2 separate regions of the Homo sapiens genome follow, and region 2 is linked to region 1. Evidence: fine-mapped expression QTL. A gene starts in region 1. The other region holds a variant in brackets. All regions are shown on one strand. Distances are between the middles of the regions.

What was found.
Region 2: its variant is fine-mapped to the expression of ELP5 in hepatocyte-like cells (PhLiPS, PIP 0.95).

The regions. Positions count from the first base shown.
Region 1 is chr17:7,249,885-7,254,241 of GRCh38, forward strand. It overlaps ELP5 (elongator acetyltransferase complex subunit 5), which reads left to right and starts at 2,331. Exons shown (of 8, transcript NM_203414.3): 1 at 2,331-2,712; 2 at 2,886-2,946; 3 at 3,034-3,114. The coding sequence starts at 2,667. CTDNEP1 (CTD nuclear envelope phosphatase 1) reads right to left here and starts at 1,850. Exons shown (of 8, transcript NM_001143775.2): 1 at 1,311-1,850. The coding sequence starts at 1,412. RefSeq lists enhancers at 1,453-2,040, 2,041-2,629, 2,498-2,717 and silencers at 1,578-1,697, 1,768-1,977, 2,748-2,987.
Region 2 is chr17:6,554,754-6,559,128 of GRCh38, forward strand. PITPNM3 (PITPNM family member 3) reads right to left here and starts at 1,802. Exons shown (of 20, transcript NM_031220.4): 1 at 1,632-1,802. The coding sequence starts at 1,653. RefSeq lists an enhancer at 67-713. The variant GC/G (reference allele first, on the strand shown) is at 1,851.

The DNA.
Region 1 (4,357 bases):
TGGGCGACAAAGCGAGACTGTCTCAGAAAAGAAAAGAAAACCCCAGGAGATAGCCCCACACATATCCCAGCATCTCTGACCCTAAATTTTTCTTGGCTCCTAGCTCTTGTCTCGGGGGAATAGCGCTGCTGCCTACAGCCACAACCATCCTGTACTGTTCGCGCCCTAAATCAGGAAGTGGAAGCAGACTGGTAAAGGACAGAATGAACCCAAGGCCAGACCCATTCTCCCAAATCAGTTAAATCAACCACCACTACCACTGAGGGCTTTCTGGAAATTCTCTGGACCCCAGGTCACCCCAACCTGGGTTTATTCTTTCAAATTGTATTGAGGTATGCTAAGGGGTACAGACCACAGTACAGACCCAGAACCTGTGTCTCCGCTTACTAAATTCTCCCCAGACTCCTTCCGAGGATTCTCCCTGGTGGTGGTGAGACCACAAGAGCACATTCATTTAAAGTGCTGTTAGCTGAAGGACCTCTGACCTTGGAGAAAAGCTAAGGGAGAGGGGACCCAGAGATGCTTGGGTCCATCCGGACAGTTTCCCTCAGAATGCTAGGCTCTCCTGGAGAAGCAAACGTCCTCATTTTCAAGCCCTACAACTGCCCAGCGCTGTCCTCTGACAGGGACACCCAAACTTCAATGGTGGGCACAGCACCCACCTTGAACTCCCTCCCACAATTAAAGAGGCCCATCGTAAAAGCATCTGCTTTAGTCTTCAATAAATCCAGATACCTACACTCACACTATGAAATAAATTTTCACAGCCTTTTTGGAGGAATTCTCTTAATGGGAACCGCAGGCGTTTCTCCTTCACACCCAGGGCTTTCCCAAGTTCCCGTCCTTGTTTGTAACGTATGCCCTCCCACCCACCTCCACCCTTGACACACAAGTCTGTCTCTTCCTTGTTATAGGACCAAACACACACCGAGGTTCCAAATAGGGTCTTTCCCAAGCCCACATCCACAGATCCGGCTGTCATCAAACAGGTGTTCCCCGCCTCTTGGTTTCTTTAGCAACAACTCCAGCTTTCTTAAAGAGCGCCCCACCCACCACCTTAGCCCCCAAGAGTTGCCAAATCCTGTCCCATCTAGCCCCATCAAAACCCCCAAGGGCAAGGTTCTATTACAAGGGTCTCCCACCTCGCCCCGCTTAGGGTGCCCAATTCTCTGGCGAGAAAAGCCCCAGCCAGGATTCCCTTCCTAGGCCCAAACAGAGGCCCGACACTCCGAAAACCCCTGAGCACCACGGACAGATGTCCCCAACACCGCCAGACGTCCCCAACACCGCCAGCGCCCACCCTGGCTCACCGTGCGGATCTGCCTCCGCAGAAGGTAAATGAAGAAGCTCCAGAGCTTGGCGGCGAAGGCCACGAACGTGCGCAGCCCCAGCAGACACTGCGTCCGCATCATCCCGATGACCCCGGCACCGCCGGCCCCGGGGCCCCCGCGGCCCAGCTCCGCCAGCCCCCCGGGGGCAGCCCCCCGCCGCCGGGAGGGGGAACGGGGGCCCCGAGTGGCAGGAGAGGCTGCAGAGAGGGGCACGGAGCGGGCGGCTCAGAAAGCCACCCCTGGCGAGGGTAAAGCCCAGCGGAACGGGGAGCTGGGGGACAGGCGTGGGCAGCCCGCGGGGGCCCACATGGGCTGGGAGTGGCACCGACGGCTTCGGGGAGGTTGCGGGCCGAGACAGGTAGGGCTAGGATGGGGTCCTCCGAGACCTGGAGGGAAGGGGAAGGATAATTGGGGGAGGGGGCAGTGGGGGAGGGGGCTAGGGAAAAGGGAGGAAGGGAAAAGGGAAGGGGAGGGGGGGAAAGCAGAGAGTGGCCCGCTGCGCAGGCGCGCTAGGGGGCTGCTCGCAGGAACGGGGAGGGCGGGGGCAGCGGCGCGCAAAGGGCCGCGGCAGCGGAGAACGGGCCTGCAGAGCGAAGGAGCAGGGAAGGAGGGGGAGGGGGAGCCGGAGGGCGCAGAGCGCTGGGCCGGAGCGGCCTCCCCCTCCCCGAGCTCGGGGGTCCTTTAGCCGCTGGGGACCGGGGCTGCAGCCTCTGCAGCTGGGTTTCCCACTCTGACAGGCGCCATTTTACCGTCCAAAGGACTCCCTCTTCCTGTCTTTCCCCCTCCTCTTCCCCTTTGACACTACTTCCGGTGGTGACGTGTATTCGCTTCACCGGGACTAAGTTCCTCCTGCGCGGTCTATGGCGGGTAGGTATAAGGAAAGCCAAAAGCACTCCAAGCGAGGCTGCAGTATTGCGCACGCGCAGAAGGTGGCCGCGGGGCGGGGCCTGAGGCGAAGCAGGCCCCGCCTCAAACTGCGTGGGCGGGGAGAGTGACGTCACTTGGCCCGCGCTTAGGGCCCTCGCGGGGGGCTTGTGGGTCCTCCTCCCCCTCCCACTGACAACTGCCCCAACTGCTCTTCCCGCCCCGGTCACAGTGAAAATGTAGACGGGGTCGTTGTCCGTACGACTGTGCGCCAGGGCTCGGGGAGGGGCGCCCTCCGCGTGAGCGCCCCCCTGGGAATATTGAACATAATCACCTCTCATTCCAGACTATGTTAGGTCTTAATGGTGGGAGGACGCCCGAGTGCTCGGCCCGTTTCACCCCGAGGAGGAAGGACACTGGGTCATGACGCCATCAGAGGGCGCCAGAGCAGGGACCGGACGCGAGTTGGAGATGTTGGACTCGCTGTTGGCCTTGGGCGGCCTGGTGCTGCTTCGGGGTGAGAGCCAGAGGCACGGTGGCGGGGCGGGGGGTGCGGTTCGGGCCTGGCTGAGGGGACGGAAGTGGGCAGGAAGGGCCAGGGGTCACAGGCTAGGTGTGGAAATCGCGACGGGTTCGCGAAGGCGGTAATCCCAGCGCTCTCATACCCTTTATCCGTCCCTCGCTCTGCAGATTCCGTGGAGTGGGAGGGGCGCAGTCTCTTGAAGGCGCTTGTCAAGAAATCTGCACTGTGGTGAGTATCCCACAGTGTCTCCCCGGCCTACCCTGGATAGGGCACCTGTGCCCACTCTTTGACAATCCCTTCTCATCTCTGCCTTAGTGGGGAGCAAGTGCATATCCTGGGCTGTGAAGTGAGCGAGGAAGAGTTTCGTGAAGGTTTTGACTCTGATATCAACAATCGGTAAGTACCAGTTGGAAGAGATTTGATTAAATTTGAGACCTATAATGCTAAGGAAATTTCTTTACAACAAGCGCAGAACCTGGTATGTAGTAGCAGTTCCTTAAATATTCATTGAAGAATTGGATATGGATCTTTCAGGAGGCAAGAATTAATAAGAGGAGTGATGAGTATTTGGGGAGTCCAAAGCAAAGATCATAGAAGTCGAGAGAGAAATAGCCTGGAAATAGGGAGAACATGTGGGAAGGGTATTGCAGTAATCCGTTAATCCGGCTTCACTCTTTAAGGTACATATGTACCGAGCACCAACTATCAACCAGGTGCTGTGCAAGATACTGGAGACGGCAGTGAGTGAGACCTGTTCCTGACCTAATGAATTTTAGGGAATAATGGTAGGAAGTGATAGAGGCCTGGTTTAAGGCAGTGGCAGTAGAGATGGAAAGTTTAGAACACATGTAAAGGACTTTAGTGGGTAGAATTTCCAGGATTTATTGACTAATATGGGGGAGAAGAAAGTATTGAGATAAGGAAGTTCCTAAACCCAGCGGCATGCCTGATCAGGAGACATTAAGAACCATTAGTAGGATGCTTTCTACTTCCTAGTCCCGGCAACTCAGTGGATGATAATAGTAGTTTACATCTTATCTGTTGAGCCTCCAATTTTGCATCAGCCATTGTTGTGATAGAGGCGGTGGTGTATGTTCAGATGGCATTCCATGGCTGGGCGCGGTGGCTCACGCCTGTAATCCCAGCACTTTGGGAGGCTGAGGCGGGTGGATCACCTGAGGTCTGGAGTTCGAGACCAGCCTGACCAACATGGAGAAACCCCATCTCTACTAAAAATACAAAAAATTACCTGGGCATGGTGGCACATGCCTGTAATTCCAGCTACTCAGGAGGCTGAGGCAGGAGAATCGCTTGAACCCAGGAGGCAGAGGTTGCAGTGAGCGGAGATCACGCCATTGCACTCCAGCCTGGGCAACGAGCGAAACTCTGTCTCAAAAAAAAAAAAAAAAGCGGGCACTCCACAAGAGAAGATAGAAAAGAGATATCTGGGAAAAAAAGTTCTGCTACCTATGCCAGTCTCCCTTTCCTGAGCTGTTTTTTCTGTAGTTGTTACTTCTTGACTTAATTCTTGACTTTCTTTAAGCTGTTCTACAGGCAGGACCAAATCTCACGTCCTCTGCTTTCTCTTTTTTCACCCAGGGTGATAATCTTTAGGTGCCACACACAGGAAATATTTGAT
Region 2 (4,375 bases), 700 kb before region 1:
TGCCCAGACCCTCTAAGCCACCTTGAGGCTGCTATTTCTCTGAGTATCTGTTTCTAGATGTTTTAAAAGTGGGAGAGTCGCATTTCCTCCCTCCCAGGATCACGGTACAGTAAAGAGCTTAGCACTCTGCCTAATACATAGAACAAGCAGCAAATGTTCACTGCCGTTGCGATGACAGTGCCCTGGCAGGTGACCTGTGCTCAAGGCGTCCCAGTGCACACACACACTCACACACACACAGGGTAGGGCAGCAGATGGGACACACGCCCTGCCACAGGCCATTTTAAGGAGTCGGGGTGGGTGAGGACCCAGGCACGGTGGAGGAAAGAGGGAGGCAAGAAGCCTTTTTCAGCTTCCTTGGTGTCATCTCACAGTGCCTCCCTCAGGAGGGGAAAAGGGAGGGGAGTGAGAAGGCTGTTTAGCTGTGTTCCATACTGGCTGTGCCTCACACAACCGGCCCCACCCCGACAGGACTCCTTGGGGACAGAACGGGAGTGCATTCTCAGGCACCTAAATCTTACAGGCTCAGTGCCTGCACAGGGAGACGGGTCCGCAGCCCAGGGTCCCGGGCAGCTTTCGGGCTTGGGGGTGGATTGACACACAGCCCGATGGTATTCACACCCATTCCTTCACTGTCGCGCCCGGTCCTGGGGGACGGCATGGCACCAGCCAACGTCACGGGTTGGGTGTGAGTTCATGGTAGATTCTCACACGCCAGCCTCACAAGAGGCACTGCCGAGACCAGGCTTGCTGCCGCCTACTGTATGGCCGGCCCTGTGGGCACAGCTGTCCTCCACCCGCCTCCCAAGGCACCATCGGGCCCAGAATGTGCCCGATGAGTCACGGGCCTGGGTCTCCCCAGCATGGGCGCAGCAGGGGGGCTGAGTCCGCCTGAGCCCCGGTGCCCAGCTCAGGGTCTGGCACAGAGCAGATGCTAGTGAATGAACGTCGGGCTGGATGAATGAACGAATGACTAATGCCCGCTCCCTCAAACCACAGGCTACACCGTCTGAGCCTGGGGGAGGGCAGAGCCCACGGGACCCCAGAAGAGGCCTCCGCAGCTGAGGCTTTGCGTCCCAGGGTCGATGGGGGAGGGGGCGGGGCGGCCAGCAGCCGGCGCGGCACGGGGCTCCCCTCCTTCCCGAGAAGGAATCTGGGTCTCTGGACTGAGCTGGTGACGGGGGCTGGGGCGGGGGGTTGTGGCGTCCTGGATGGAGAGAGCTGCAGGAGCAGGGGGCGCGTCCCGGTTTGCGTTGGGGTGTGGGACGAAGCGGCGGCCGCGGGACATCCCCTTCGGTGGCGAAGCCCGGGTCTGCCCGGGGCCTCCGCGGGGTGCAGAGGGCTCCCAACGGCGGGACTGGCCCGGGGCGCCGCAGACCTGGCCCTTTCCGGCGGGGCCGTGGAGAAGGGGACGCGGTGTCCCCCGAGGTGACCGGGGGCGCAGGAAGGACGGGGGGCGCGCGGAGCCCCCTCTCCACGCGCGGGAGGTCCAGCCCCGCTACCGCCCCCTACGCCCTCCCGGGACCTCCGCCCACCTGCGCGAGGGGTTCACCTGGGCCGGCGGCCCCTCCTCTAGACGCGCGAGTCCCTCCCCCGGGCCCCGGCCCTGCCCTCCCCGCGCCCGCCCTCACCTGCACGGCCCGCCTTGGCCATGTCCCGGGCGGCGGGCTCCGGCGGCGCTACGCGCGCTCCTCGCGCTTCCCGGGCCCGGCCCCGACCGCCTCCGGCCCCGAACGGACTCCGAGCGCCGCGCCCGCGCCCCCGCCCCGCTCGCCTCGGCTGCCGCCACCGCAGCCGCCGCCGCCTCGCCGCTCCCTCCCGCTCCCTTAAAGGCGCCGAGCGGCGGCCGC[GC/G]CCCCCCCCCACCCCACCCCCCGCGCCGCCGGGGAGGGACTGACGAAGGAAGGCGCCCAACGCCGCCCCCGCGGGCCCGCACCCCCGCCCCGGGCCGTGGCCGCCGCGCTCCAGCCCGCTCCGCTCCGGCCCGCGCGGCCACCGCAGCGCGCGAGGGGCGGCAGCCCAGGGGCTCAGAGACGCGGAGACAGCCCGAGACACTGCGGGCCAGAGACGGGGCCCTGGACTGGGAGAGGGGCGCACAGACTATTAGACAGCGCTGGAGAGAGACGCTCCTAGGGCCAGAACGCCGAGGTGGAGGGAGAGAGAGAGAAATTCAGAGGAGACCAGAGACCCAGAGCCCGGCTCCGGCTCCGGGAGAGACGGACAGAGGGAGCGGAGAGAGGAAGGAGGACAGGGATCCAAGGGAGGCCCCCACGAAGTCAAGAGGAAAGTCGCTCTGGGATCAGAGACAAGAGAGGGACCCCCTCCATCAGCCCCCGCTCCAGGGGTTCTGGATCATTTATGGCGTCTGACCTAACCTCAAAAGAGAAAGGATTCCCGTGATTTTAACCCTCAAGGGATAAGTAAAACACTTGCACATCCACCTGGGGTTCTAGGCTGGAGCAGGCTTTGTGGACCCCAGCGGCCTGGTGGTGAGCAGTACCCGCCTTCCACTTCCTAAATCGGGATGCAGAGATTCTAGTGGACAGGCCTTGTGGTCCGGGGAGATATGGGTTATGACTTCTGTTTAGGGGCAGCAGGGATCCACAGTCCAGCCCCAAAAGAGAGCAGGAGATGGCCAATTGTATTTGGCGGTGCCTGAGAGGTAACAACCCTCCACTGAGAGGGTGCCCTGCCTCCCCCAGGAATTGGTAAGGCTGAAGCCCAGTTACCATCTGTAGAGCCAGGCACCCAACCCACCCTGTCCCACTCCACTTAACAGGGAAAAGGTCAACTGGAGAATTCCATCCATGGTCCAGGCTCCAGGGTCCTGCAAGCTCCTCTATGGAAACAGGGCACACATGGGGTTAGATGGGGGCTCTCAGTCCAGTGCCTTCTCTGGGGCTTTGACTCCATTCACAAGATTCCTGCTAAGCAGTCCTCCAGCTCCTGGTTGGTTACCTCCAAGGACAGGAAGCTCAGTATCTTAAGTGAGAGTTCTTCCTTTTATTAATTTTTTTTTTTTTTTTTTGGCTAGTGCTGGCCTTAAGAATGTTCTTACTCGTTTGAGCTGAAATCTACAACCCGCATGTCCCATCCATGAGTTCTGCTCTGCCTTCCGACACCTCACCCAACAAAACCAGGGCTTCCCAAGGCCTTCTACCCAAACTCCCTAGTATGGATTCACCCAGGGAGAACAACCATCCACGTTTGCCAGAGCTCACCTCCCAGGAAACCCATGAGTCCCAAGAGCTCTGGATCCCAGAGCCAGATGACAGCACCAACTCCAACAGATGTAGAATTTCAGAAGCTCTGGGCTCCTGAATCCAACGCTGTTCACCAGCACCTGCCATTGGTCACCAGCTGGGAGAGCAGGAATGGACCCTGCAGCCTTTCCCCACTATGAGAATGGGACTGGGGATGAGAATAACAAGGACTATTGATTGAACAGGCGGTATTTACCCTCATGTACTCTCTCAGCTACATTGCGTTATCCTCAGCATACACATAACGAAGTGGGGGCTAAGAAAGTTCGGTGCTTGTGGTCATGGAGGATCAATTTCAGGCCCCTGTGCTTTGTCTACTGGGCCTCACTGGCCTCACCCTTCCCTGAGGTGTTTCAGAGGCCTGATAGCCTGGACAATGTCCAGGCTTGGCCACCTGGTCTGTAGGTGTGAGTGGTCACGCAGGAGACAGAACGCTGGCTGCAGAAGAAGCAATGCGCCTGCCACAGAGGGGACACGCCTGGGCCTGAGCTCCTCCCCAGCCCTGGCTCACAGTAGCAGCAGTGACCAGAGGGCATCAAGGGCCCTCCTGCTTCTGGGCACAGCTTCACGTTGTGTTTGTGTGTGTGCCTGGGTATGTGTGCATGGGGTGTATGTGTGTGTGCTTGTGTGTGCTTAGGGATGCATGCATGGGTGTGTGTAGGCACACTCGTACACACAAACACAGGCAAACACCTGCTGACAGATGCTCCCTGGGTGGGCACCCAGACCCCTTCCCCTCCCACCACTTAGTCCTCACAAACCCTAAACTAGTCACCCAGAAGGGCCTGGGTGGAGCGGTTAAGGGGAGGTGCCAAGTTGATGGGAGTTTCAGAACTCATCTCTCCAGACCACTCCACACCCCATTTCTCAGATGGGAAGACAGTAAGCCAGATCTGTCCCCTGAAAACCACGACTCAGAGGCCCAGATCCATGGTTCCCCTCTTTAAACCTTCACCCCAGCCTCTGTCCGCCCCTAAGGCAGCCCCTGAAGGCACTGACTGTTACCAGCTGCCAAGGAAGTTCCAGCCCAGCCTTCTGACAGAGCAAACACATCAAAACTCAAGGCCATTAGATTAACTGGTGGGAGTTAACTTCCTGCGTCAGAAGAATTGTCC